Homo sapiens: one gene and its partners. The protein of the gene in region 2 interacts with the protein of the main gene of each other region in a biochemical or structural test. Each region holds a gene or a part of one and is shown on either strand. Other genes may lie near its edges. The genes, in order: PRKACG, TNP1, PRKACA, PRKACB and PPARG.

Evidence for each region.
Region 1: of the proteins of TNP1 (region 2) and PRKACG, one has a biochemical effect on the other in vitro, tested with the Homo sapiens proteins (one study listed by BioGRID).
Region 3: of the proteins of TNP1 (region 2) and PRKACA, one has a biochemical effect on the other in vitro, tested with the Homo sapiens proteins (one study listed by BioGRID).
Region 4: of the proteins of TNP1 (region 2) and PRKACB, one has a biochemical effect on the other in vitro, tested with the Homo sapiens proteins (one study listed by BioGRID).
Region 5: the proteins of TNP1 (region 2) and PPARG form a complex in vitro, tested with the Homo sapiens proteins (one study listed by BioGRID).

Annotation. Positions count from the first base shown.
Region 1 is NC_000009.12:69,010,313-69,016,359, reverse strand, and holds PRKACG (cAMP-dependent protein kinase catalytic subunit gamma), read left to right. Parts: upstream 1-2,246; 5' UTR 2,247-2,267; coding exon 2,268-3,323; 3' UTR 3,324-3,856; downstream 3,857-6,047. UniProt on the Homo sapiens protein: Phosphorylates a large number of substrates in the cytoplasm and the nucleus.
Region 2 is NC_000002.12:216,857,392-216,862,527, forward strand, and holds TNP1 (spermatid nuclear transition protein 1), read right to left. Parts: upstream 2,674-5,136; 5' UTR 2,644-2,673; coding exon 2,505-2,643; intron 2,305-2,504; coding exon 2,276-2,304; 3' UTR 2,067-2,275; downstream 1-2,066. UniProt on the Homo sapiens protein: Plays a key role in the replacement of histones to protamine in the elongating spermatids of mammals.
Region 3 is NC_000019.10:14,092,202-14,098,377, forward strand, and holds part of PRKACA (cAMP-dependent protein kinase catalytic subunit alpha), read right to left. Parts: intron 5,690-6,176; coding exon 5,563-5,689; intron 5,474-5,562; coding exon 5,378-5,473; intron 5,283-5,377; coding exon 5,160-5,282; intron 1,592-5,159; coding exon 1,427-1,591; intron 1,037-1,426; coding exon 911-1,036; 3' UTR 1-910.
Region 4 is NC_000001.11:84,184,887-84,191,062, reverse strand, and holds part of PRKACB (cAMP-dependent protein kinase catalytic subunit beta), read right to left. Parts: intron 5,964-6,176; coding exon 5,881-5,963; intron 1-5,880. UniProt on the Homo sapiens protein: Mediates cAMP-dependent signaling triggered by receptor binding to GPCRs.
Region 5 is NC_000003.12:12,413,407-12,419,582, forward strand, and holds part of PPARG (peroxisome proliferator-activated receptor gamma), read left to right. Parts: intron 1-3,297; coding exon 3,298-3,748; intron 3,749-6,176. UniProt on the Homo sapiens protein: Nuclear receptor that binds peroxisome proliferators such as hypolipidemic drugs and fatty acids.

The DNA of each region.
Region 1 (6,047 bases), on a different chromosome or scaffold from region 2:
TGGCTTCCCACTAATTGCTCTTTGTGTATAAATTTCTACTGAATAATCTGGAGGTAAGTCAGAAATGGGCAGAATTTTAGCAGATCTACTGTGATGAAAATGAAGAGGAAATCACTGAGATTATGGGGGAGACGTGGAATTTCCATCTGCCAGGGATTTGCCTTGACCCAAAGCACAAGGGGCAATTGACCCCCCTGCTATGTTCTTGAGGGAATGTGGGTTTCCCTTTTGTGGAAGTTCAGATGATCAACAGTAGATTTTTCTCCTTTCCTCTTCTTCCTCTCTAACCTGACCGTCTCTGAATATACAGTCAGTACCCAAGTACTGGCCCCAGATTAAACCGTAAACTCGGAACCAGGCCTTGCACACAATAGACACCTGCTTGACCAACATCTGCTGAACTGAGCGGCAAGAATTCACAGTCACAATAGAAACCTTCTACTTGGAGTCAAGTAATCAGGGATTCCTCTCCAATTTGCTTGGTTTCAGCCTGCAGGGCTAGGTGAAAGTGTGTTGTTTACTTGCACTAGCTACAGGCGGTGTAGCCAGGGTGGGTAGGCAGAATTAGCTGTCAAACTTAAAGGGCAAGATGGAGAGAAAATAGGAGGATAAATGGGTATTCCTGTAGCTCAGTGTTTATGATGTAGGACAGAATCTTTGTACAGAATTGACTGGGGAGAGCAGCTCAGAACCCACCCTGTGATGGCTGAGTGCTGGCAGTCTTCTGGAGGGTGTGTGGGGCGGCTGACATGGTGGCCTGGGGGAGTGATGGAAGGCCCATCATCTATGTACTTTGACTTCTCATAAACTCCTGTGGCATGTTTTTAATAATTGATAGAATAAGTAAACAGAAAGTCAATAAGAATATAGAAGACCTGAACACTACTACTAGCCAACTTGACCTAAGTGACATTTGTAGAACACTGTATCCTCAAACAGCAGAATACACCAGAATATACATTCTTCTCAAGTGCATATGGGCCATCTACCAAGATAGATCATATTCTGGGCCATAAAATGAGCCCCAAGAAGTGTAAAACATTTTAGGTCACACAGAGTATGTTTTCTAACAATGGAATTAAATCAGAAATCAATAGGAAAATTCTTGAAAAATCCCCAAGTATTTGGAAACGAAATAATATACTTTTAAATAGCTTATCTGTCAAAGAAGATGAAAAGGGAGCTTAGAAAATATTTTGAGCTGGATGAAAAGGAAAATACAACATACCAAAATTTGTGGGATGCTGCAAAAAATAATACTTAGGAGGAAATTTATAGCACTAAGTGATTGTAATAGAAGAAAGATTTCAAATCAGTGACCTTAGTTCCCACCTTAGGAAATAAGAGCAATTAAACCCAAAGCAAACAGAAGAAAGGAAATCATATGTATGTGTTAAAATAAAACATTACATGCAGTAAAACTGAATTTTGGGGGGAAGTATACAGTTCTTTGAGGTGTTTGTTTGTTTGTTTGTTTGTTTTTGAGATGGAGTTTCACTCTTATTGCCCAGGCTGGTGTGCAGTGGCACGATCTCTGCTCACTGCAACCTCTGCCTCCCAGGTTCAAGCAATTCTCCTGCCTCAGCCTCCCGAGTAGCTGGGATTACAGGCATGCGCCACCACGCCTGGCTAATTTTTTTGTATTTTTAGTAGAGACGGGGTTTCACTATGGTGGTCAGGCTGGTTTCGAACTCCTGACCTTGTGATCCGCCCGCCTCGGCCTCCCAAAGTGTTGGGATTACAGGCTTTAGCCACTGCGCCCGGCCAGTTCTATGAGTTTTAAAACAAATGTAGACCACCACCCAATACATTGTAACCACCAGCACAATCAGGATACAAACATGTCCCACCACTTCCCACATTCCCTCAGGCTGTCCCTTCATAGTCCAACCGTCCCCTAACCCCAAGCCCTGGCAATCACTGATCTGTTCTCTCACACTATAGTTTTGCCTTTTCTGGAATGTCATAGAAATGGATTCATACAGTAAGTCTCCTTTAGAGTTGGCTTCTCTCACTTGCATAATGCCTTTTGGATTTATCCATATTGTTGAGTGCAGCGGCGTGATCTTGGCTCACTGAAGCCTTGACCTCCCAGGCTCAAGAAATCCTCCCATCTCAGCCTCCCATGTAGCTGGGAATATAAGCGGAGGCCGGGCGGGGGTCGCAGCGCCGCAGCCAGCGCAGCCAGCCCCAGGGGGCGCCATCTCCGCCGCTGCCGCCGCCGCCGCCGCCGCCGCGAGACCCCCGCCCCTGCCGCCGCCACCGCCATGGGCAACGCCCCCGCCAAGAAGGACACCGAGCAGGAGGAGAGCGTGAACGAGTTCCTAGCCAAAGCCAGAGGAGATTTCCTCTACAGATGGGGAAACCCCGCTCAAAACACCGCCAGCTCGGATCAGTTCGAACGGCTCAGGACGCTGGGCATGGGCTCCTTCGGGCGGGTGATGCTGGTGAGGCACCAGGAGACCGGCGGCCACTACGCCATGAAGATCCTCAACAAGCAGAAGGTGGTGAAGATGAAGCAGGTCGAGCACATACTGAACGAGAAGCGCATCCTGCAGGCGATCGACTTTCCGTTCCTCGTCAAGCTCCAGTTCTCCTTTAAGGACAACTCCTACCTGTACCTGGTGATGGAGTACGTGCCGGGTGGGGAGATGTTCTCCCGCCTACAGCGCGTCGGAAGGTTTAGCGAGCCCCATGCCTGTTTCTATGCCGCCCAGGTCGTCCTGGCCGTCCAGTACCTACACTCGCTCGACCTCATCCACCGCGACCTGAAGCCCGAGAATCTCCTCATCGACCAGCAGGGCTACCTGCAGGTGACGGACTTCGGTTTCGCCAAGCGCGTGAAGGGCCGCACTTGGACCTTGTGCGGGACCCCAGAGTACCTGGCCCCCGAGATCATCCTGAGCAAAGGCTACAACAAGGCCGTGGACTGGTGGGCCCTAGGGGTGCTCATCTATGAGATGGCCGTGGGCTTCCCACCCTTCTACGCCGACCAGCCCATCCAGATCTACGAGAAGATCGTCTCTGGGAGGGTGCGGTTTCCCTCCAAACTCAGCTCTGACCTCAAGCATCTGCTGCGGAGCCTGCTGCAGGTGGACCTCACCAAGCGCTTCGGAAACCTCAGGAACGGGGTTGGCGACATCAAGAACCACAAGTGGTTCGCCACAACCAGCTGGATCGCCATCTATGAGAAGAAGGTGGAAGCTCCCTTCATCCCGAAGTACACAGGCCCTGGGGATGCCAGTAACTTTGACGACTACGAGGAGGAAGAGCTCCGGATCTCCATCAATGAGAAGTGTGCCAAGGAGTTTTCTGAGTTTTAGGGGTGTGCTTGTGCCCCTGTGGGTTTTCTTTCCTTTTTGTTTTTGGTGGTTTGGGGGATGGGAGGGTTGGATTGAACAGCCAGAGGGCCCCAGAGTTCCTTGTATCTAATTTCATCCTCACCCCACCCTCCAGGGTTGGGGGAGCAGGAAGCCCAGATATTTGGAGGAACAGAAACACCAGCTGCTCCCTCACCCCCCCCCATGCCTTCCTGGTCCCTCTGTGCTTCTCTCTTTCTCCTCCCACAGGGTCCCCCTTGCCCCAGCCCCCTTCTGCCTGTTTTAAACGAGTTTCTCAGCTCTATTCAGGCCAGGTCTTGCTGTTGTATCAAGGGACACGGTGTGGAAAGAGGGGCTCAAACTTAACTCCAGCCCTGAACAGGCACCACTTACTAAGAGAGGATGAATGAAAAGCACACCTACCCTTTGGCGTAATCCTGCCTGGGAAGGAGAGAGGTTTAGTGCCATGTTCAGTGGGCTGTTTGCTAGAATAAAAAATTAAAACAAAAAACAATTAAAATCTTATTTAAGTTCCACCAGTGTCCCCTTTCCTCCTTCCTCTACTTCCACCCCTCCCACCCTTCCCACCTTACCGTGTCTCCCCATTCCATTTTAACAAATCCAGGAAGCCGACTGACTTTGGAAGGAGGCTCTGGGGTTTGAACTTCCCCCATGAACTGCTGATTTCCCCCTCCCCCCTCCCCAGGGGCATCCTCTATCACTCTTGCAAAGGTCTCAGTTCTTTTAGGAAGCTCCACTCTCTTCTTCCCCAGCAGACTTTTCTTCACCCTTGGGCTTTGGGAGCCAGAAAAGCAGCTGCCCTACTCCCTGCCAAAGAGGAGTTGTCCCCCAAAAAGACAGAGTGGGAGTTCCAAGCCCAAGTCTTTCTTCACAGCAGCATTTCCCCGAAACTCCTTAATTTTATTCTCAGCCAGATTGTGATGCCCAGCCTCTCCTTATGGGAAGGCAGTCCTGCAAAAGGACATGGAAGAGGCCCAGCCCCTCCACCCCCACCTCATCGCCCAGGGTTCAAGGCTAGGGTTGCTGGGGAGGGGCTGCCTGTTTTATTCACCCAGCAGCTTCTGCCTTCTCCCATCCTGGGTGCCCCTCTCCAGCTTAGCTGTCAGCCATCCTTCACCTCTTCTCCCCTGCCACCCCGTGCTGTTTTCAATTTTTTTTTTTTTTTGACATGAAGTCTCACTCTGTCACCCAGGCTGGAGTGCAGTGGTACAATCTCAGCTCACTGCAACCTCCGCCTCCCGGGTTCAAGCGACTCTCCTGCCTCAGCCTCCCGAGTAGCTGGGATTACAGGGGCCCACTACCATCCCCGGCTAATTATTGTATTTTTAGTAGAGACGAGGTTTTGCCACATTGGCCAGGCTGGCCTTGAACTCCTGACCTCAGGTGATCCAGCTGCCTTGGCCTCCCAAAGTGCTGGGATTATAGGAGTGAGCCACCGTCCCTGGTCTGTTTTCTTTCTTAATAGAAAAGTGAGGAGCTGCTGGCAAGCCACCTCATTCATCTTCATATTTCCCCCTCTCATCACTTCTCCCCATCCCAGGAGGAGCTCTCAGGCCTGGGGTGGGTCCCCAGGTGGGCTCAGGGTGATTCAACCTGCTTGCTGTGAAAAGATGAGATTTCCTCTTGAACAGTGTGCTGTTGTAAACATATGTCAAAACTATTACCAATAAGGCCGGGTGCTGTAATCCCAGCACTTTGGGAGGCCAAGGCAAGTGGATCACTTGATGTCAGGAGTTTGAGAACAGCCTGGCTAACATTGCAAAACCTCGTCTCTACTAAAAAATACAAAAATAGCTGGGCGTAGTGGCATGCACCTGTAATCCCAGCTACTTGGGAGACTGAGGCAGGAGAATCGCTTGAACCTGGGAGGCAGAGGTTGCAGTGAGCCGAGATCGCATCACTGCACTCCAGCCTGGGTGACAGAGTGAGACTCTGTCTCAATACAACAAAACAAAAAACCAACTATTACCAATAAAGTTTTGTTAAAAAAGAACTGGCAAAACTAATCTATGATGCTGGAAGTCATAATAGTGACCTTTGAGGATGGCATTGGTGGAGAGGGGACATGAAAGAGCCAGCAGGTGGCCAGGCACGGTGGCTCACGCCTGTAATCCCAGCACTTTGGGAGGCCAAGGCGGGCGGATTACGAGGTCAGGAGTTCAAGACCAGCCTGGCCAACATGGTGAAACCCTGTCTCTATTAAAAACACAAAAAATTAGCCAGGCATGGTGGCAGCTGCCTGTAATCCCAGCTACTCGGGAGGCTGAGGCAGGGGAATTGCTTAAACCCGGGATGCAGAGGTTGCAGTGAGCTGAGACTGCACCACCGCACTCCAGCCTGGGCGACAGAGCGAGACTCTGTCTCAAAAAAAAAAAAAAAAAAAAAGCCAGTAGGTTAGCTGCAAATGTTTTCTATGCGCTTTAGGTGCTGGGCACATGGGTCTACACATATGTAAAAATTCACTGGACTATACAATTCATAGCTGTGCACTCTAGCATATGTAAGTTATACCTCAGTCATTAAAAAACGGTTGAAAATGTTGAGGTTTTTTGAGACAGGTGAGACAACACAGGCAGGCCACGGGTGATTCAAGTGGGGATAGAGTTTTGAGGATCACAGCCTCATGGTATTGAAACGGCTTTTGAGTTAGGTCTTAAAATAAAGGTTCTTAACATTTCTTGGGTCCAGGTCACTGTGAATTTGATA
Region 2 (5,136 bases):
GAGGCTGAGAAAAGATACAGATCATCCAGAGAGCAATTGTAATAGACACCGAGGTGAGCTGCTCAGATTGTGGGTGTGTGGTCCACCAAGGAACCTCCAGCTGATGCTCCCTTCTGAGTCTGCCTCAGCAGGGAAATGCCATGTCTTACTGGCGCAGCCCAGCCAGGGGGGGTATAAATGGTATAAAGGCCTGGCTATACTGCCTGATGGTTTGTGCAGCTCCTTCTTCTGTACGACCCTGCAGCCTCCCTCTTCAAGTACTGACCTCTAATAAACATCTTGCATTCAAGCTCCATCTCCACTCCCTGAGAACCCAACCTATGAGGCTAAGTTTAAAAGAATTTACAGCAAGAGCAGCAAAAGCACATTAAAATAATTAAACAATTTTTACTTTTTGGATTTATTTTCTAGATTTCATGTGTTGCAAAGTGTGTTTATATTTTATACAGAGGCAGAGGAAGTCCCAGGAGGCATGAGAGCAGGGTGAGAGCCATGGCTGATGAGTTCTTTCAGAGATTTGAAGGAGGGAATCCAGATCAGATATGTGTGCAAACTTCTAAGAAGTTAGAGCTTCGTTCAGTGACACTACGGACACATATAGGATTATTTGAGACTAATCTGAGTTTGGTTAGAGAAGCAAAGACAAACAAAAGTCACATTTAGGAGGTAAAATATACACAACCATGGAGGATGAGGGTTATGAAGCATTTTCCCTATCCCTATCCTCCATTTAACAAAAAGGGAAACTGACAATGGAAAACTTTGAAGTATCTGTGTGCCTGATGGTAAGGAGAGATGTTTTTCACATGAACTTGAAAACAGCTCTGAATCAGCATGCTCATTCTTAGGGTTATGGAAGAGTGAGGACTTGAAATATTTTACCCCAACAAGTGAAATAACTTATCTGAAAAATGAACATGCTTTTTTTTATTGCATTTCTAGATTCTGACCCACAGGAACACCCCTTGCCACCCCTTATAGGACCAACATCCTGGTACCCACACATTTGCATGAGGCTCAGACTTAATAGTGTCCTCTTCCCATGTCTCACACCCCTGACTGCTGGAAACTTCGTGTCTAACCTCATGCCCCCTCATTCCTTCCTGCTTATACCCTTTCCTGGTTACTTCCCCAGAAACCACGTGGGTGGTTGGTTCTTGAGTTTAAATATGAGTCTCATTTCTACCCTGGAGCTACCTCTGAGGCAACAGGAAACAAGAAAAATACGATCCACCTCTGAGTGGGTGAATGTCATATCCTTGACCAGAGACATCATAAATTGTGTTACAACTCAGGGACAAGGTAAAGTGAGGGCTTAGGAATTTCCTAAATGAGCAGAACCAGCTCTATCCCTAAAGTCAGTTCTCTCTCTCTCTCTCTGTCAAATGATCAATACTCAGATTGAGACAATTCCTACTTCTAGGCACACTGGACTAAGGCTTATGGCATGCTACGAGGCAATATCCCACTCTTCAGTCTTGCCCACCTCAAGCCCAACATAGCTACCAAAATAACCTAAAGAAATCTAAACTCTCATCACTTCCACTGTTACCAATAGGATCCTTTACAAAGAACATGTTGGTCTCTGTTCAGAAGGTGTTCCCATCTCTTAGCCTGCTAATACTGCCCATATGATCAATGAATTAAGAGCTTCTAAGAGCTCCTCCAGGTGATCTCTATCTCCGGGCCAAGTCTTTAGATTTAGTTTAGCTTTCAACACCTCTATGCTATAAGCTCTGACGAAAACAGCTTGCATCCTTTGGTTTAAGCTCTAACAAAAACAGCTTGAATCCTTTGGTTAATGCTAATGAATGCATTTCTCCCTTTTTTATCTCTTCTCCCTTTCCATGTTGAGGAGAGAGACAGCACACTGGGATGAAGACAAATACGGCAATAGTGTGTGGCCAGAGTAGGACCACCTCCCACGGTGGTGGGAGGGAATTGGAGGACAAATTACTTTTGATATTTTCCAAGTCACATTTAATGGTTTCATACTGGCCAATTCTTCCCCAAACCCACCTAGCTCAGGAACTCAAGTCTTTCCAACCAAAAGATCAAAGTAAACATTTCTGCTTTCAAAGTTTTATTGAGATGTTGGGGAAAAACAGCCAACATATACATTCCTCATTTCGTCACAACTGGCATTTGATCCACATTCCATAGGCTCCTCTCTGGCTTTGATCTAACATCAGGTCTCCTTGGCAGTTCCCCTTCTGCTGTTCTTGTTGCTGCTTGGTGCTGTGTGAAGCGCACCAGGGCAGAGCCCGCTGGGGGCTCACAAGTGGGAGCGGTAATTGCGATTGGCTGTGGGAAAGGACAGGTTTGCAACAGAGACACGAATTAGAACATTCCCATCAAGACTCTTGTTGCTCAAATCTGCATTTAGTTATTGGAAATAATCTCAGGCCAAGATTTCAGGGTCCTGTGAGAGCTGCCTCCAAGAGGGAGGGCCTGGCAGCAATGTGTGCCTAAGTTTGGCAATCTCCTCCCCATCCCTCACTCACCGTCATCGCCCCGTTTCCTACTTTTCAGGTTGCCCTTACGGTATTTTCTTTTGCTGCCACCTCTCTTGACTCCCTTGTGAGGAGATCGGCTCTTGCTCCTCCTCATGCCATGACTCTTTAATTTGCGGCTGGTCGACATGGTAAGTTCTGCCAAAATGAGGGGCTTTGCAAGGCCCGGGGGCCAGGAGTCTGGGTATTTAAGGCCTTGGCCATTGTGACAGGGAAGGGGCATGGCTCAGCAGGTGGGCGGGGCTCTACTGTGCTGTCACTCACCTTTGCTGCACTTTGGTCACATTTGTGAAATAAGGTGGTCCTTTTCGTGCAGCTCAAGGGCTGCCCTCAGTTTTGAGGTCCTTTTTATGTTAAGTGAGGCTTTCCCAGAGAGGTGTTATTGAGAAACTGAATCCCAGCCCTGTGCCAGGCATTGGATGAGTACAAGAGACCATTCAGATATGCTTCTCCTGCCTGTAGGAAATGTAACAGTCATTGAGTGTGTGTGTATGCATGACTGTTTAAGTCTCTCACAGCATCCAGAGATAATAAATTTATTTCTGTAAGGACTTGACTCTACAGAACCCAATTCAATATGATCAAAATAGAAATATTCCTTCTTTTTCATCTAGGTCAGGATTTCTCAGTCTTGGCACTGTTGACACAATGGGCAGGGTAACTTTCAGTGGGCTGTCTTGTGCACCCTAGGATGTTTGGCAACATCCCTGGCCATTACCCACTGGACACCAGAGAAGCCTGGCAGCTATGACAACCCAAAATATTCCCAAACATTGCCACCTGTTTCTTTGGGAGGCTGGGGAAGTGAGGGAAAAAATGGCTCTGGTTCAGAACAATTAACCTAATCATTTTTTAAAATTCAGTCACAGATATTGATCACATAGCATATGCCATACATTTAGGTGGTAGAAAATTAGTGGAGGATAAACACACGTAGATACTGTGCTCATGGAACTCTCAGCCCACTGGGGAGAAAGCCATTCATCAGATGTCTACATAAATCAGTGAGTAAGTACTTACGGAGTCATTTTGGCTGGAGAAGGGCAGAGGGAAACTCCCTACATGGTACAGGATGAGGCTGGAGGGAGAGACAGAGATCAAACCATGATCAAGTACATTGGGAAGCCTTTAAAAATGTTAAGAGGATGGCATGTGAGATTAGAGGGTGCCAAGTGGGTGATGTATTGACTGGAGGAGCTGTGTAAAGGGAGATGCTACTGTCAACATCAATGGTTCAGCAGAGAGAAAGATTTGATGATGGTTTAGGTCTGGCCAGGAAAGGTGTTGATTGAGATCTAAAGTAGACAAGAGACCAAGGCTTGGTGACGGATTGAATTTGGGAGGTGAAAGCAGATGGTGTCAAGGGTGTGGCTTTTGTTTCTGTATAATGCAGTTATCTGGATGCTGGTGCCATTCATGGGGATAAAGGCCAGACATGGGGAGAGTGATGATCATGTACTTGGTATAAGACATACCAGCTTTGAAGTGCCTTTGACACTTACAAATAGATATATTGAATGATTATTGGTGTATAAGTCATCCAGCCTTTCCTTTTTCCTCCATTACACCTCATAGTAAATGCTTTGCTTTTGAAAATGTTTCTTTCTTTTTTTTTTTTTGAGACCGAGTCTTCTCTTTTGCTCAGGCTGGAGTGCAGTGGCACAATCTTGGTTCACTGCAACATCTGCCTCCTGTGTTCCAGCAATTCTCCTGCCTCAGCCTTCTGAGTAGCTGGGATTACAGGCGTGTGCCACCATGCCTAGCTAATTTTTGTATTTTTAGTACAGACAGCGTTTCGCCATGTTGGCCAGGCTAGTCTTGAACTCCTGATCTCAGGTGATCTGCCCACCTTGGCCTCCCAGAGTGCTGGGATTACAGACGTGAGCCACTGTGCCCGCCTCATTCGGATTTCTATAGAACTTGTTTGCTATTTCTTCCATTTGTCTCTCCTCTCTCCATTGTCATTACCCTCATTCAAGAACTGAGCATCTTGTATGCAGGAGATCCTTAGCAAAAGTTGGTTGAATAGAAGAGCGAAAGTAGTTCAAGTCCCACTCCCTGGTTTTCTGATATCTATAGATGGCAAATTGAGTTTTGAAACCCAGATTCCTTGTATAGCCACCATATGTGACACTTTCCATTTTCCTGCTTCTGGGCAGGTCTCTCTGGAGACCTTCTATTGGTGACTTGTTGGTGACTTTTATTCACATGAAGAAGTTCTATAAAACAGGCTGCTGGCTTGCTTGTTGGTAGTCCAGACCTTCTGCGTCCACTCAAGGCTGGTTGTTTCTCCTACAAACATGCCCCCATGAAAGCAGGGACCTCTGTGAAAGCAGGAATTGAGAAATTGGGCTCACTACTGAATATTCCCTGGGAGTTCATCAGTCCTGCCACAGAATAGAAGCTCAGTAAGTATTTGTGAAATACATTTGGTCAATGAATAAAAAGTCCTTCTTTTATTTTTCTAACTATCCTGTTCCTTCCCATTTTGCCCCACATCTCTAAGGAAGACTTCCCAACTTATCAAATTTTCACTGTCCTTTGAAACTTCTTCAAAGTTTATTGTCTGTATAATATTGGCTTTAAAGTCTAGACAACCAACCCTAATTGTGTGAAATCATGT
Region 3 (6,176 bases), on a different chromosome or scaffold from region 2:
GGAGGAAAGACTTGGGCTTGGGGCTCCCCCTCTGTCTTTTTGGGGGATGACTCCTCTTTGGCAGGGAGAGGGGCAGCTGCTTTGTCTGGCTTTCAAAGCCCAAGGGTGAAGACAGGTCTGTTGGGGAAAAAGAGAGCGGAGGCTTCCTAAAGGGGCCTAGACCCTCGCAGGATTGGCAGAGAGGATTCCCCGGGGAGGGGCCCAGGGGAGATTAGCAGCGGGGAGGTTCAAACCCCAGCGCCTCCCTTTCCAAAGTCAGTCTGCTTCTCTTTAAAATGGATTTGAGGAATGGGGGGACATGGGAGGGGTGGGAGTAGAGGAAGGAGGGAGGGAGGCACTGGTGGAACTTAAATAAGATTTTAAATTGTTGTTTTTTTAAAAAAATTCTAGCAAGCAACCCACTGAACATGTCACTAAAAATCTCTCCTTCCCAGGCAGGATTACTCCGAAAGGAAGGTTGGCGCTTCGTTCATTTGCCCTTAGCAAGTGGGGCCTGTGGTTGGGTGGGATGGGGGTGTGGGTGGGGGCTGGAGTTAAGCGTGAGCCCCTCTTTCCATACCCTGTCCCTGGATACACCAGCAAGACCTGGTCTGACTGGAGTTGAGAAACTCGTTTAAAACAGGCAGAAGTGGGCTGGGAGGGCTGAGGGGCTGGGGGGCTGTGGGGAAAGAGGAAGGGAAAAGTGGGAGAGGGGGCAGGAGGGTGAAGGGGATGAGGGGGAGCAGCTGGTGTTTCTGTCCCTCTGATTATCTGGGCTTCCTGCTCCCCCTAACCCTGGAGGGTGGGGTGGGGGTGAAATTAGATGCAAGGAACTCTGGGGCCCTCTGGCTGTTCAATCCAACCCTCCCACCCCCCCGACCAAAAAAAAGAAAAAAGAAAAAAGAAAACCCATGGGGGCACAGGCATGCCCCTAAAACTCAGAAAACTCCTTGCCACACTTCTCATTGATGGAGACCCGGATTTCTTCTTCCTCATAGTCGTCAAAGTTACTCGTATCCCCAGGGCCTTTAAACTTTGGTATGAAGGGAGCTTCCACCTGGAGAGGGATCAAGAATCACCCAGACCTCAGCATTCAACATAATCATTATTACAACAATAAATGCGAATGGCCTAACATTCAAGAGATATTTACTCTGACTCAGGCCTGTGCTTACCATTAGGTTATGGATTCCTCTTAACAGCCCGAAACTCTTAATGTAGCAACTCATCAAAGGGGAAATTACTTCCCAGAGAGAGGCATCTGTTGCACAAGGTCATGGAATGGCCAAATGACCCCAGAATCCCATTTCTAGACCCCACTGCTCTAAGCTCTCTACTCTAGGTTGCTCCTGAACCTGTGTTCTCTTCTCTATTTCTCTATTGGCTGTCCTCCCTGACTCTTGGCCTGCTCCCAAACCCTCAGCAGGCTTAAGGAGGGGAGGCCCACCTTCCTCTGGTAGATGGCAATCCAGTCAGTTGTGGCAAACCACTTGTGGTTCTTGATATCGTTGACCCCATTCTTGAGGTTCCCAAAGCGCTTGGTGAGATCTACCTGCAGGAGGTTCCGCAGCAGGTCCTTCAAGTCAGAGCTGAAGTGGGAAGGGAAGCGCACCTGGAGGAAGGGGTACAAGGACAGGGTGGGAAGCTGGTCTGGAACTTGGGAAGCCCATGATGCTTCTTTCTCCATCCAACGGTCCTACTGGGTGTGGGCCTCCAAAGCAGAGTGCCTGCCAGCATCTTGTAAAACAGCTCCTTGAGCCTACCCTACAGTTTCCAATTTAGGAAGTCTGATACTGTGGCCTGAGAATCTGCATTTCTTTAAAAACTTTAAAAATTCAAGAGTTAGTTATTTTAAGAAGTTTTTGTAGAGACAGGGTCTCACTACGTTGCCCAGGCTGGTCTTGAACTTCTAGGCTCAAGCGATCCTCCTGCTTTGGCCTCCCAAAGTGCTAGGATTATAGGCGTGAGCCACCACACCCAGCAAGAATCTGCATTTCTTTTTTTGAAAAAAAAAAAAAAAAAAAAAAAAAAATAGCCTCACTCTGTAGCCCAGGCTGGAGTGCAGTGGTGCGATCTGGGCTCACTGCAACCTCCGCCTCCTGGGTTCAAGGAATTCTCCTGTCTCAGCCTCCTGAGTAGCTGGGATTACAGGCTCACGCCAAGACACCTGGCTAATTTTTGTATTTTTAGTAGAGACGGGGTTTCACCATATTGGTCAGGCTGGTCTTGAACTCTTGACCTTAGGTGATCCACCTGCCTTGGCCTCCCAAAGTGTTGGGATTACAGGTGTGAGCCACCGTGCCTGGCCCAAGAATCTGCATTTCTAACAAATTCCCCAGCAATGGTGCTGCTGGAAAGGGGTCCCTTTTAAGAACCATTGCTCTAAGGCAAGTGCTATGATGATTTCCATTTCAGAGAAGGGGAAACTGAGGCTTGGGTTAAACAGCTCTTCCTAGGTCACATTGAGGTGTGTGATGGGGCAATTCCATCTCAGGTCTACTGGACTCTAGAACTTGCATTCTCAGCTGCTGCTGCTGCTGCTTAAGGCATCTCTGCTGGGGTCTGGAGACTTCTGAAATATTCTTGCTTATGACAAACTTTTTCTCTCCTCTCTTTCTGCATAGCTAAGGCTCTTCCGTTCTTTAAAGCCCAGCTCAACTCTTCTTGAAAGTTTTCCCCAAACCCTCTGAGCCCACGCCTTGTATGCAAGTCATCACTGGAGTTATAGTTGCAAGAAACGACTTCTTGTTCCTGCTGTGCCTCTTACACGCTGTGTGACCTTGGCCATGGCCCTTAACCTCTCTGGGCCTGCGCATGCCTCTCAGATGTGGGGCAGATATGCCAGGGCTGCACGAGGGAGATAATACCACTGACGGTGCGGGGGAACTAGAAAATGCTACAAAGAAGGGAGTCATGTGCATCTTCTCCTGTGGGATCTTCTGTGTTTTTTTCTTTCTTTTTTTTCCCACTCTGGGACATTTTTTTTTCTTTTTTTCTTTTTTTTTTTTGAGATGGAGTCTTGCTCTGTTGCCCAGGCTGGAGTGCAGTGGCACAATCTCAGCTCACTGCAACCTCTGCCTCCCGGTTTCAAGTGATTCTCCTGCCTCAGACTCCTGAGTAGCTGGGATTACAGGTGTGTGCCACCATATCCGGCTAATTTTTGTATTTTTAGTAGAGACGGGGTTTCACCATGTTGGTCAGGCTGGTCTTAAACTCCTGACCTCGTGATCCGCCCGCCTCGGCCTCCCAAAGTGCTGGGATTACAGGCGTGAGCCACCACACCCGGCCAACTCTGGGCCATTTTCTTGGCAGTTTCTTTTGGTCCGGTGGCAGATGCCTCATCTTTCCCTTTTTTTGAGACAGAGTCTTGCTCTGTCACCCAGGCTGAAGTGCAGTGGCGCAATCTCGGCTCACTACAACCTCTGTCTCCCGGGTTCAAGCAGTTCTCTGCCTCAGCCTCCCGAGTAGCTGGGATTACAGGCACCCGCCACCACGCCCAGCTAATTTTTGTATTTTTAGTAGAGACAGGGTTTCACCATGTTAGCCAGGCTGGTCTTGAACTCCTGACCTCGTGATCCACCTGCCTTGGCCTCCCAAAATGCTGGGATTATAGGTGTGAGCCACCGCGCCTGGCCTTCATCTTTCTCTTTTAGTGATGCTATGTGTCCAGCTGGGGCACCCCACTTGCCTGAATTTTTTTAAAAGACAGGGTCTGGCTCTGTGACCCAGGCTAGACTGCAGTGATGCAATCACAGCTCACAGCTCACTTCTGGGCTCAAGCGATCCTCCTGCCTCACCCTCCCGATGAGCTGGGAACACAGGGGTGCACCATCACGCCCAGCTAATTTTTAGTTTTTTTTTTTTTTTTTTTTTTTTGAGACAGAGTCCTGCCCTGTTGCCCAGGCTGGAGTACAATGGTGTGATCTTGGCTCACTGCAACCTCCGCCTCCTGGGTTCAAGTGATTCTCCTGCCTCAGCCTCCCAAGTAGCTGGGATTACAGGCGCCCACCACTATACCCAGCTAATTTTTTTTGTGTGTGTTTTTAGTAGAGACGGAGTTTCACCATGTTAGTCAGGCTGGTCTCGAACTCCCGACCTCAGGTGATCTGCCCGCCTTGGCTTCCCACAGTGCTGGGATTACAGGTGTAAGCCACCGCGCCCGGCCAGTTTGTTTTTTTTTTTTTTTTTTTAGAGATGGGGTCTGGCTATGTTGCCCAGGCTGGTCTGGAACTCCTGGCCTCAAGCCTCCACTTCCCAAGGTGCTGGCATTACAGGTGTGAGCCATTGTACCCAGCCCCAAAGTTTCAAAGCCAGTCGGTGGCAGAGCTGGGACTGGGGCCCAGGCTGAGCCTGAGGGTGCTCCCACCACAGTGTCATGACTCCGGGCCAACCAAAAGCTCCTGTGTAGGAGATGCTGGACCAAGTCGGGGGATGGTCGGGTCTTCCCAGCAAGGTGGTTGAGCTGAGGGCAGAGGTGGGGTCCCCAACCTCTCTCCGGCCATCAGTGCCTACAATGATTGCCTACGGTGATTACCTACTCACCAAAGTGTGATCTTGGCCAAGACACATCCCTTTTCCCAGCCTGTTTCCTCACCTCTCCTACAGAGGGTGCCACTATCTCAGGGTGTGACTGATGGGGATTCTGGGGCCTGGTGGATGGTGGGCACTTTGCACCTGTCATAGATGTGAGCTGAGATGGCTTCACCACCCCTCATCTGAACCCTCAGAGTTAGGCAAGTCTGGGTTTGGGAGAGGAAGCATGGGCTATAAATGCTAAGTGAGGGCAATCCTGGGTGAGGCTATGGACAGCACCTGGGAACAGGAACCAAATACATTCGTTTTTCTGCCTTGGAATTTGCGAAAACTCACACTAACTGGGATGAGGAGCGAAAAGGAGGGTCGTCTGGCAGGGCGGTTTGTGTTCTGTGGCCAAGATGTTCCCGTGAGGCTCGGGATTTTGGAAGCCCATGGGATTCTGGAACCGCGGGGTTGGGGCTGGACAGCAAGGGGGCTTGAGGTGTTGGCCTCAGTGTGGCCGGCGCGTCCAGCTTCACCACCTGGCCTGACTTAAGGAACTTCTAGATTATTCTGACAACAAGCAGGGCTCCCCAGGGAATAGGATGGGTGAGCAGGGAACGGTCTGTTTCTTCCAGGGCTGTGTCCCCACATCCGGACCTCACCTTCCCAGAGACGATCTTCTCATAGATCTGGATGGGCTGGTCTGCGAAGAAGGGCGGGTAGCCAGCGGCCATTTCATAGATAAGAACCCCCAGGGCCCACCAGTCCACGGCCTTGTTGTAGCCCTGGAGCAAGATGGGGGGGCACAGGGTGAGGAGGAGGCGAGAGCAGGAGAGCAGAGCCGGCCTCAGGGGAAGGGGAGGGCTGGGGAGGCTCCTACTTTGCTCAGGATAATCTCAGGGGCCAGGTACTCAGGGGTGCCGCACAAGGTCCAAGTGCGGCCCTTCACGCGCTTGGCGAAACCGAAGTCTGTCACCTGTGGGCACAAGAACAGGCAGTTGGCAGGGAGGAAGGGTCCAGGCCACGGCTTCCCCAGGGCTGCCCCTCGCCCGGCCTGGTGGGCACCTGAATGTAGCCCTGCTGGTCAATGAGCAGATTCTCCGGCTTCAGGTCCCTGTAGATGAGATCCAGCGAGTGCAGATACTCAAAGGTCAGGACGATCTGGGCCGCGTAGAAACGGGCATGGGGCTCACTGATGGGGACAAATGGGGAGGTGAACGTCAGTGGTCATGCCCCAAAATGGTCCAGCAGGTGGCCCTGCAGAGCCTACCCCAGAGGAAGACACCTCCAGTCCAGCCGTCAGAAACGCAAGGCACCTGATTCTTAGATAGCCCGACATGGGAAACAGCCTGTGGGTCCATCCACAGGAAAATGGAATCACAGACTGAGCTATAGTCATACAATGGAATTCCACTCACCACCACCACCGCCAACAGGACAGCCCATGCATCCACTCAACAATGTGGCTGCATTTCAAACTGATTATGTTAAGCAAAAGAAGACACAAAAGAACATGAATGATTCCATTTATATCATGTCCACGCCCAGACAAAACAAAGGCACGGTGTTTGAAGTCAGAAAGGACAACTGCCTTTGGTGGGGAGGTGACGTGTCAAGAGAGGGATTCGGCCCGGTGCGGTGGCTCACCCCTGTAATCCCAGCATTTTGGGGGGTCGAGG
Region 4 (6,176 bases), on a different chromosome or scaffold from region 2:
ATAATAACAGGATCAAAATCTCACATATCACTACTAACCCTGAATGTAAATGGTCTAAATGACCCACTTAAAAGGCAGCTGGATAAAAAGAAAAGTCCCAACTGTCTGCTATCTTCAAGAGACCCATCTCACCTATAAGGACACTCACAAGCTCAAAGTAAAGGGATGGAGAAAGAACTACCATGGAAATGGAAAACAAAAAAGAATAGGAGTCTATTCTTACATACAATAAAACAGAACTTAAATGATCAGGAAAGACAAAGAAGGGCATTACATAAAGATCAAGGGTTCAATTCAACAAGACTTAACTATACTAAAAAGTTACTAACAAAATAAAATGAGAAATGTCTTCAAAATTGTCAACACAGATTTTTGCCTAGATTTCCTGGTCAGAGAGTTTTATATTTGCCTCTGATAAATTTCTTAAGGTCATGAAGCTATAAACCCAGACTAAAACAAAATGATCTTTGTATATGCTATTATTTGATAAATAAGATTTAATATTACTGATTTAATAAACGTGTATCTTCTGAGTTATTGAAAGAATATTCATGTATCTAACTTTAAGTTCTTATTTAGGTAAACATTTGATATTAACAGGCTATAAAATTGGCTAATAAAAATAACTTAAAATAACGACTCTGCCTAATATCTCAATTTTCATAAGTAATCCAGGGATAATTAATAAAAATGAATAAATTAGGTGAATGTTAATTAAATAAACATTTATAAATCAATGTCTCATGTAATTTAAAGTCTTACAGTTATGTTATATTAAATTAAATAATAAGATACTTATTAGATGTCTGGGCCATAACAAATAAGTTTAAAAACTAAAACAAATTGCTAAATAAATATAAATCCCTTATTGGGTTCTTAAGTTCTATAAAAAGTTTAAGTATATTGAGGTCTAGTAGTCAAAATATGAATGTAAGAAAAAAATATGTTGTATGAAAAGTATATTAGGTGGTAAATATTTTTCCTAAAGTAAAATGATTGGCTGTTCCAAAAACGGAGGAAGAAGAAAAGAAAAATTATAAGATTAAGACTGGGGGTTTGGAAAAATGAAAGGATGGACCTTATGAAAAAAGTTTTATGTGTAAATAGTTAGGGAAAGAAATTGGAAAGGAAAATTGTTTACATATTTTTCTAAAAATTAATGATTGGTGTCAAGGGTGCACTGACAAAGGACCAGAATCTTGCTCTCTATATTTAAACAAAACTTTCTTGAAGTATTGATCTGCTCTCAATAATACTGCAAAAGGTTGTGATTTTTAATTATAAAATCTGTTTCTTTGACAGCCATCTTCCAAAGTGCAATTTCTATTTCTGCCACATTTCTTCCTGAGATCTAATTAATTTCCCTAGTTTTAGGTTTGAAATGCTGTCCTCTTCATTAAAAATAGTAATTCCATTTCTTGAGGTAAAGTTTTCCTTTTGAAATTTATATTTCAGAAGTTCGGCTTTTGCTGTGTCACACTACACATGATTTGAAGGTCATACATCCCCTTCTCTTTCTTGAAAGGTATATCTTTTTGCTTGGCTGGGTTGATAACTCCCTCCTTCAACCTTTTTCCTCAACTCCTAGAACTTTTTTTTTTTTTTCAGTTTGAACTTTGTTATGGCCTGATGCAGAAACGTTTATCTTAAAGGCCTAGAAAAACGAAGTTTTCTTTCAGTATAATTTGAATCTGTATTCTTGGCTCTTCTTGGTATGTCTGTATTATTTCATGTAACCAGGAAATTTCTCATGCTGTTACTGAGAGCCATGTATTTCCCTGCTCAAGATAGTCCTCTTCTTGTTCATATTTTTCTATAACACAGTGTACACTCAATAACCCTGGACACATTCTTCCTGTGTCTGATTAAATTCAAGTACTCAATCAACTTTCAGATGATTGGTAATTTTTTTAATGGAAAGCTCTAAATGGGAAAAAGAAATAATGAGCATACTGCAGAAGATTTTTCTTTACCATTTTGGTGATTTGTCTAAAAAACTAGATTTTATATTTTATCAAGATAATATCCTATGTTGTCTTTATCAGGTTTTTCATTACTCAGAAAAACTGAGCTTTAAAAATAATAAAAGTTTTCACATTCATATAACTTTCTGTATTACATCTGATGTCTTTTGATTATCACTCTGGTTAAATAAATGACTATTATTTTACAGTGACCTGTTACTCCGTTTTGACCAAGGGTTTTAAGTCTTTTAAGATGTTTAACAAACTTCCCAAAAATCAAATCCTAAATTAAATGTTCTTAATCTAGAATTAGCTTTGGGATTTTCCAGCTGGGCCCTTGGAAAACATTTGAAGACACAGATCTCATCTTGTAGACGTATTAAATAATTAGATTTATTTTTAAATTATATAAGAGATTGTATAAATGATGTGATACTAGATCTTTTAGTTGCATTTATGGCTATGTTGTTCATATGAATGTTTCAAAAATTATATAAATTCAGAGAAATTAACGTTATTCATAATTCTGGTTATTGTCTTAAAATGCTAGATAAAATAGAAATAACTAATTTTACTTGTTAATTGTAAACTTTCATCAGATTTTTACCCATGGCTATTCTAGATTTTTGTCATCCAGAGTTAATATTTTGAATTCTCAAAATTATTTACAATCAGATTCATAGAAAAGACCCCAACAAGTACCCTTAAATACAGGTTTTTAATAACTTTAAGATCAATAGACTAAATAAAAATTTCCAGAACCCTAATAAAAAAAGATGAGTATATGAAAATACTAATTAAGATCAAGCAGAACAAAAATTACATGAAATTAAATAATTGATAAAAATAATGTTTTCATAACTTTCATTTAAAACATTGTTACATTGTTAGTTCTTAAATATTTTGGTTTCCAGATTTAAAAAAACTTATCTCTTTAGCTATTTATAATTTATAGCAATTTGGTAAAGTATATTTTTGTAAAAAAAGATAAAAGCATTTGCTTTTTTTCTCCTTAATTCAAAAATTAGTTGTAAGTACTTTTATGGGAATATGACTATTTGCACAGGTCCAGTAAAAATCTGCTCTCTCTTTATAGCAGAATATGAAAACACTGATTATATTACTAAGGCTCTAACTGAACTATCGTATTTAAAAAGTGCATAAAATGCCTGACTTCAAGGGTTTCTCAGCATTACAATGAGTAAATAAAAACTGTTACTTCCTGGCAGGACCAGGAACCTCAAGACTGTAAGGAAAATCTAAGACTGCCTTGGTTCGGCTTCCTTGCCTCAAGAGGTTTTTAAATCCAAGATTCCTATGTAATCAATGTAGAGAAAAAAGTTTTTTCTAAAGAATAACTATAATATACCTGTTATTAGACTGTAAGTCTGTACATTATTTTTGAGTCTTGTTATCTACCTATAGACTAGACAAGGTCCTAAATTCTTCTAGGTTCCTCCAATCGAACTTTCTTCCATAAAATTACTAAAATGAGAACCGCTCTGTTCCTGAAGTCCTGTTAGCTGAAACTATATAAATTTTAAGAAACAAGTCTCATGCCTGATGTATGGGCCACACAGAAAGTTCATCAAACTGCCCAAAGCCATAGCCAGAGACATTTACACTGTAAACAAAGCCAAGAAAGTTGATGTTTTCCATGGTGTGAACAGCTTTTCTCAAAACACTAGAACAAGACTCCATATTGTAATGAAACTCTTACCCCTCTTAATGCCTGCTTTTTCACTTAACCAAATAATATTGTAATTTAAAATTCACAATCAGTAACTGCTATAGGTACTGGTGAGACCTGCTAAAGCCATTGACAAAGCCTGACTTAAGAAATTCTTTCAGTTCATCTAGTCACAACATCGACAATATCCTTAACACAATTTTTTGTTTAATTTGTGCTGGTGGTCCCTCTTGCAAAGTTTGGCATTCTCTGCTTTAGTTCAACCCAGTCATAAAATGTTAGTCAATGGCTATAGCAGGTCTCACCAGTTTCCCCTGGTCCTTTGATTTCTTTAGTTTTTTGCCCTTAGGCCTGGGCTTTAGTTCAAAAGCACTGCACAAATACATTTTACTATATTGTTAATTTTTTTGTACTATCATTTGTAAGCTTTGTTCTTAGTGCCTATCTAATCTTTGTAAAGGCAGCTGTCCCAACAGAATAACGTTAGCCCAACACTTAAAGATGACTGCTAATACCTATGGAAGTGATAAGTGGGAACTCGATGCTGGCTGGACTCCAGACAAAAATCTACTTTGAGAAAAATTTTCCTTCTGGCCTCCTCGTTACTTGAATGTGGCCCAGGTCCCTACATAGACACCCCCCAACAGATAACTTCTCTCATATGTGGGACAGAGACAACCAGAACAAGTCCATCCGAGCACCAAGGAATAATTAAGCCTAACTTCAAGATGGTTGACAAGCAATGCTTTCAGAGAAAGATCTTGATCAAAAGGGAAAAATGTGAAAGCTGATTATACAAATTAGTCATTCTCATCATACCTAACTAAATCAGAGTCGAGGGGCCAGGGAATAACGCACTCAGGGCACACAGCACCTGCTCCAAGAATTAAGGCCAGGTGTGGTAGCTCACACCTGTAATCCCAGCACTTTGGGAGGCCAAGGAGGGTGGATCACTTGAGATCAGGAGTTCGAGACCAGCCTGGCCAACACGGTGAAAACCTGTGTCTACCAAAAATAGAAAAATTAGCCGGATGTGGTGGCGGACACCTCTAGTCCCAGCTACTCGGGTGGCTGAGGCAAGAGAATCACTGGAACCCAGGAGGCAGAGGTTGCAGTAAGTCGAAATGGTGCCGCTGTACTCCAGCCTGGGCAACAGAGGGAGACTCAGTCTCAAAAAAAAAACCAAAAACAAACAAAAAAATTATATTTTCCACAAGTCTAGTTGCTGAAACTGCCTATTGTAACCTGAAACCAGTTTTCTCTAACAGCTACTGAGACAACCTACTGCGACTCTTAGACGAGTCTGACCCACCACCATCACTCACCAATCAGAGCTTGCCAGCTCCCCAAAACTTAACTAGTGCTAGTAAACTTTGTTTCAAAACAAATAAACATAAAATTTCTTTTTATAAAACCTCCAACCTTTTCTTTGTTTTCTAGACACATTGAAGACCACCTAGTCTGTGTATATGCCTCAAACTGCAATTCTTGCTTCCTCAATAAAATGTTGAATTTAGAGATTTGTCTCTACATTTTTATTTTGACTTCAACACACTATACTGAATGAAGCTGTACCTGTTTTTTATTTTAGCTTTATTCTATTAGTGATTATTAATGAACGGTAGAAGCTTATAAACTATTAAGTACAGGTAAAACCATCAGATTCTATAACCTATTTTAATAACTCTGAGATCTTATTAGTCATAACCTGATGAGGTACAAACTCCCGTTAAATTATGTGTATATTTTAAAAACTAAACTTAGCAAGAACTTTAAGGAGAATTAAATTTGTGAAAAACAAACTTTTATAATCTTATTACCATAATACTATTATTATTATTTCTCTATATATTTATTTTCCATCTTCATCCTTAAAACAATCCTCTGTCCTGGAGTTGTATTATTAATCTTTGTTTAATAAATATTGATATTTTAAAATTCAATTAATTTTTCCATTTTCTGAAAACTCTTCAAGTAGTGGACCCTCACAATATCTAGCAGTAGTATAACATTTAAATTGGCTTCAAAGTCCTTTTTTTATATTAAATTTTTATATTCTTTATATTAAAACTTGTGTATGATGTGGCCTCTTTGTTTCCACCTAATGCTTCATATGGCCAAAATATTAATCAAACAAAATAAGTTTTTGGCATTGGCATCAACTTAAAAATCTGGTTAAACAACACAAGCATATAAAGATTTGAAGAAAGCAAAACCATTAGTTACCTGAACCTTCCAATTCTTCTTAGATGTGAAAACATTTCACCCCCAGGGACATATTCCATAACCATGTATAAATTAGAATTATCCTATGAACAAATAAAAAGGAAATACAATTATTCAACTTAGGTCAAAATTATTTTAATATTATATAATGCTGAATTAGAAAAATTTAAAATCTCTCTGACAGATTAATAACCTTGAGAAATAAAGAATAAATGGAACATGCTCTAGCTTTTCTATACAGAGACACTCATATTTTTCCCCTCCTAGTTATTTTTGCCACAAACTAGTCTGGGACT
Region 5 (6,176 bases), on a different chromosome or scaffold from region 2:
ATCAGATATGACTAGGGAAAAAATAAAACAACTGGTGTTCATTTGCATGTCAACACCCAGAATTCTCTGCTAGTTCACCTCTTCTTCAGAATGCAGAAAGGATTGAAAAAGCTGGAATGGGGCCGGGCATGGTGGCTCATGCCTGTAATCCCATCACTTTGTGAGGCAGAGGTGGGTGGATCACCTGAGGCCAGGAGTTCAAGACCAGCCTGGCCAACATGGTGAAACCCCGTCTATACTAAAAAATAAAAAAATTTAAAAAAAATTGCCGGGCGTGGTGGTGGGTGCCTGTAATCCCAGCTACTCTGGAGGCTGAGGAGAATCACTTGAACCCAGGAGGTGGAGGTTGCAGTGAGCCTAGATTGCGCCATTGCACTCCAGCCTGGGCAACAGGAGCAAAACTCCATCTCAAAAAAAAAAAAAAAAAAAAATGAAATGGTTTGGCATGATGGTGGGGTGCTGATTCCTCTCTCTGTCCTTGAGTATTTACTGCCAGGAAATCCTGACCAACATCAATTGCCAAGGGGTTAAAGTCACATTGTTGTTAAATTGGGAGAGAAAATTAGCAGGATTTTGTGCCCTATGTTCAACTATTACAGAGTTTCAAAAACAGGAACCTGGAGCTTTATATGAGGGGACAGGGGAAGTAAAGGGGAAGAGTGACAAGGGTGATTTATCAGGGCATAGTTCCAGATAAATCACTTACATGGAGGTGAAAGAATTTCATGCATATGTTCTGTGCCAAGAAGCCAAATGGTTGAGCAGAAGCTCTGAAAGTTGAAGTGGGCAGTTCTGGGTACAGTCTTTCCACATGTGAAAAGGTGATGATTTTATATTCATGTTATTTGTACTCCTGCATGTGCAGTTGGTCTTTTCAGGTGTCCAGATCATCATTTTCTCATGACATGAAAGAAAGCCAATAAAGGCTAGTTGTGGTGGCTCACACCTGTAATCCTAGCACGCACTTAGGGAGGCCAAAGCAGGACGATCACTTGAGCCCAGGAGTTCAAGACCAGCCCAGGCAACATACATAGCAAGACCTCATCTCAAAAAATGAAATAATTTTTTTTTAGAAAAAGAAAGTAAATATTTCATTAATATAAATTATAATACACTGTAAAATGCCTGGAGGACAAGAAACACGTTTTCTCTAGGTTCTGTGAAAGCATCATTATCCATTCACATTTTTCTCATAATTAGAACCTGACGTTCTGGAAAAATACAGTAAATTTTCATCGATGTTACTTGCTCTGCCCCCCTTGTATTCCTCCCATTAATAATATTAATCCTGAAAAGAAAAAAAGAAAAAGGAAAGAAACCACCCAAGCAAAATGTTTAAGAAATACGGTAAGGACAGTTTGGTCCCAATTTCCTTAAAAATTAGAGCCACCAAGTAAACCTGTTTGGGGGTCCTCACATCTGTCCTCTTTTGGAGTTTGCTAAGTAGTACAGTTGAAGTGAATTTTTTGGTAACAAAAGTAAAAACTTCCAGAATAACTCCAGTAAAGGGTGTTGATGTGACGTACAAGTTTGGAAATATATTTAATATCTGAGACTCCTCAATGTTGGTGTTATTTCCTCCAGTTTAGAACAAACTTAATCTTTTGATGAAAATCATAGAGTTCCATAGATATGAATAGAATCTCCAACCAGTGCATCTTGAAGCCGGCTGCCACGGCCACTCATGCACCTTCTCTCCTTTCAGGAGAGAATTGTCAGCATCTCTGCTCAAAACAATCTTTACTTTTAGTCCATCAGAGACTTCATGTTTGTCGTGCATGCACACTCACACCTCTCCACACATATGCCCACTCCCCACACACATCCTGCTTCTGAGAAATGCAACTAGAATTTCCTCCGGAGAAGAGATGGAAACCCCTGATTGAGAAATTTAAGGCCTAGGAAAGGTAAATGACTTTTCTTAAGTCACATGGCTCACCACAGAACCAAAGCTGGAACACACATACCCTCAGCTCTTCTTCCAGTGCTTTCAGGTATACAAGTATTTGAACAGGATTCAAGGTTTAACTCCTTATGTGTCATTCAGTGTATCCAGTGTAAGTAAAATGTTACCCCTTAGTCAGAACAGCCTTGAGAATTTCTCAATGACTACAAACCTTGCTTAGTTCTATACAAGGGAAGTAAAAGAGAGAGAATGTCATGACCAAATGACTTAACTTTTGAAGGCAGCCTATTGCAAACTTGAATAATTGGGGCATGTATTTTATTGATTGTTTGACCTATAAGGACAGATATTTTAAAATATAAATTCAAAATTGCTTTTTTGCAGCATTCACCTGTAGGCCTTCTATATCTGCTCTTTGTGAAATAGATGGCTTCCAGAGCATTAAAAAAAGAAATAGACATTTTCTTGGTTCAAGAGCTGTAATCTGCTTTCCGAGTGATTTTTCATAGTTAAGCATATTTTATGTGCACATAGTTTCATTTGAGATCTGAGAGGATTTCATCTAAAACGGAAAAGTTATTACCTGTGAAGGAGAACAAAGGAAAAGGAAAAAGAAATTTTAAGAAAAAAAAATTTTTTTAAACCTGTAGTTACTTTATGTTCAAGTGGGTATTTTCAACGCTGAGTTGCTGAAATGGTTTTTTATTGAAAGAAGGTTAAAAGTGTATTTCATTGAAAGCCAAGATAAACAGTAGATTTTGTATCATTTTAAAAATCAACAATCGGCCGGGTGTGGTGGCTCATGCCTGTAATCCCAGCCCTTTGGGAGGCCAAGGCAGGCAGATCACTTGAGGCCAGGAGTTCAAGACCAGCCTGGCCAACATGGTGAAACCCCATCTCTACTAAAAATACAAAAATCAGCTGGGTGTGGCAGTGCATGCCAGTAATCCCAGCTACCCAGGAGGCTGAGGCACAAGAATTGCTTGAACCTGGGAGGTGGAGGTTGCAGTGAGCCCTGATTGTGCCACTGTAATTCAGTCTGGGCGCAGAGTGAGACTCTGTCTCAAAAACAAACAAACAAATAATATAAAAATCAACAATGAAGACTCCCCAAACAAAAGAAATCAGGATTCTTAGCCAGTCATAGGTAAAGTGTTACAGTGTAAATTGAAGGGAAAGAAGACCAAAATTGGTGAAATATGTTTGGTCCCAGAAGATAATTAAGATGAATAAAAGAACTTGAGAGTATTTTCTCATTATTAAGCATCTTCAGCTTTAAAGATTTTAGTTAGCAAAGCAAGTTTACATAAACAGTTTTCTGAACCTGGGATGGCATTCACTGTGAGTTAGAAATCTCCAAGTCATCCACGTTTTCCCTGTTTTATTTGCAGCCATTCGTTATCTATGACATGAATTCCTTAATGATGGGAGAAGATAAAATCAAGTTCAAACACATCACCCCCCTGCAGGAGCAGAGCAAAGAGGTGGCCATCCGCATCTTTCAGGGCTGCCAGTTTCGCTCCGTGGAGGCTGTGCAGGAGATCACAGAGTATGCCAAAAGCATTCCTGGTTTTGTAAATCTTGACTTGAACGACCAAGTAACTCTCCTCAAATATGGAGTCCACGAGATCATTTACACAATGCTGGCCTCCTTGATGAATAAAGATGGGGTTCTCATATCCGAGGGCCAAGGCTTCATGACAAGGGAGTTTCTAAAGAGCCTGCGAAAGCCTTTTGGTGACTTTATGGAGCCCAAGTTTGAGTTTGCTGTGAAGTTCAATGCACTGGAATTAGATGACAGCGACTTGGCAATATTTATTGCTGTCATTATTCTCAGTGGAGGTAAGATTTGTCTTTTGATCTTCTATGAAAGAGGGTGGGATGATGGTGGGGTGGCCAAAAGAATTTTGGATTTCCTTAGTGTTAGTCTGCATTGTCACTTTAAGTGCCAGTGGCATGATGCCATGAATCATCACTACACGTGCAAAACACTGTACCAAGAAAGAGTGTCATAGGTTTGCGGTGTGAAGGTTATAAGTAACCCAGGATCTTCTCTTTCATCCCTCAACAATATATTTTTTCCAGTCAAATGCCCTCTTCTCCTTTTTCTTTTTCTTTTCTTTTCTTTGTCTCTTTCTTTTCCTTCCAGAAAGGAAGATTAGAGGCCAGTCTAATCTTTGGTTCCTGTAAGTAATGGCATGTATAACTTTGCTTAAGACAATGCTCACTTGATGTAGAGAAGGGACCACTAAGTATTTCTGGTCAAATCATGCTCCTGCCCCACCATCAGTAAGATACTACTTTGAATTGCTTTTGTGATATCAGGAATTAAGGAATACCTACTGACCTCCACCCACTCTCTTGTGTGGATTCCTCTGATGGCTTCCCTTAAAGTACCTTTGTGAGGTAGTTGGTTGTGATTAAGAATGCAATGTGAACCGAACACACAACATAGAAATAAATTTAGTTATTTAGCAATTTGTTGTATTTTTGGCCCTGCAAGTAGTACATGATCTGACTAACCAATTCCAAAAGCCAGATTTTCTTCTGAGTGTGACTTTTTTCTTTTTTTTTTCTTTTTTTTTTTTCCTTTTTTTTTTTTTTTTTTTTTTTGTGAGACAGGGCCTCACTCTGTCACCCAGACTGAAGTGCAGTTGCACAGTCATAGCTCACTGCAGCTTCTAACTGCAGTTAGTAAGCTATGATCATGCTACTTCATAAAAGTAATACGTGGCCATTTTACAGTTGGGCTCAAGTGATTCTCCCACCTCAGCCTCCCAAGTAGACAGGACAACAGCTGCACACCAACATGCCCTGCTAATTTTAAAAATTTTTTTGTAGAGATGAGGTCTCATTATGTTGCCCAGGCTGATCTCAGATTCCTGACCTCAAGCAATCTTCTCACCTTGGTCTCCCAAAGCGCTGGGATTATAGGCATAAGCCACCACGCACAATCTAAACATTACTTTCATTAGCCTCTCATGAGTAGAAGAAAGTTTTACTTTCATCTCTCTGTATAAAAATTGTTTTTAAGTGGCAAGTTTTCCTATTGAAGTGGACTTTAGGTGAGCTTTTTGTATGTACTCTACAGTGTATCCTCTGTGAAAAACCCGTCGGGGGATAGTGGTAAACTGTATATAACTGCACAATGTATTATAAAGAGCACGATCCCTTTGTCATCTTTTGTTGTCCAGTTGAAAGGAGAATGTTTCTGAAATCAGGTGCATAGTGCAGTAGTCATAAGAATAGCAAACATTTATTTAATACTTGCTGTGTGCCAGGCAGTGTTCTAAGCACTTCATGCATATTTATTCAATCCTCACAACAATTCAGGGAAGTAAGGACCATTTTACAAATGAGGAAACCAAAGCACTGAGAGGTTTTCTCATTTGCGCAAGGTTACGTGGCTAGCAAAAGATGGAGACAGGATTGTGAGCCAGGCATGCTGGCTCAGACTCTACACTCTCTACCATCACATCATGCGGAATACCGGCCTTTAAATGCCTAGGGTGCAAATAGATCACAGTATGGCATAGTTTACCTTTGGAGCTGTGAAGTCCAGGGTCAAGTCGTGATTCACTTTAAAATAACTACTTGATATTGTGGGTTTTTGTTGTTGTTGTTGTTTGTTTTTTGTTTTTTTGTTTTTGAGGCGAAGTCTCACTCTTGTTGCCCAGGCTGGAGTGCAATGGCACAATCTCGGCTCACTGCAATCTCCACCTCCCGGGTTCAAGGGATTCTCCTGTCTCAGCCTCCCGAGTAGCTGGGATTACAGGCACATGCCACCACACTCGGCTAATTTTTGTATTTTTAGTAGAGACGGGGTTTCATCATATTGGTCAGGCTGGTCTCGAACTCCTGACCTCAGGTGATCCGCCTGCCTCGGCCTCCCAAAGTGCTGGGATTATAAGCATGAGCCACCATGCCCGGCCGACGTTATGTTTAATAGAACAAAAATATACTACCTGGCATGGTTTAATATCTTGACCAAATTTACTTCCTAAATTAATCCCTGGCTGTCTGGTATCTTTGATTAATTCAGCAAAAAAGGATGAGATTCCAGTATATAAGAGGTTTGCCAGAAGAAAAATATTAAATTTTGAAAAACCAGATTAGAAAAACAGTTGATATTATTTATCTAGTATTTTATTTTACTTCATTTTATTTTATTTTATTTTTTGAGATGGAGTCTCGTTCTGTCTTGCAGTGGTGCGATCTCGGCTCACTACAACCGGGTTTTCCGCCTCCCGGGTTCAAGTGACTCTCCTGC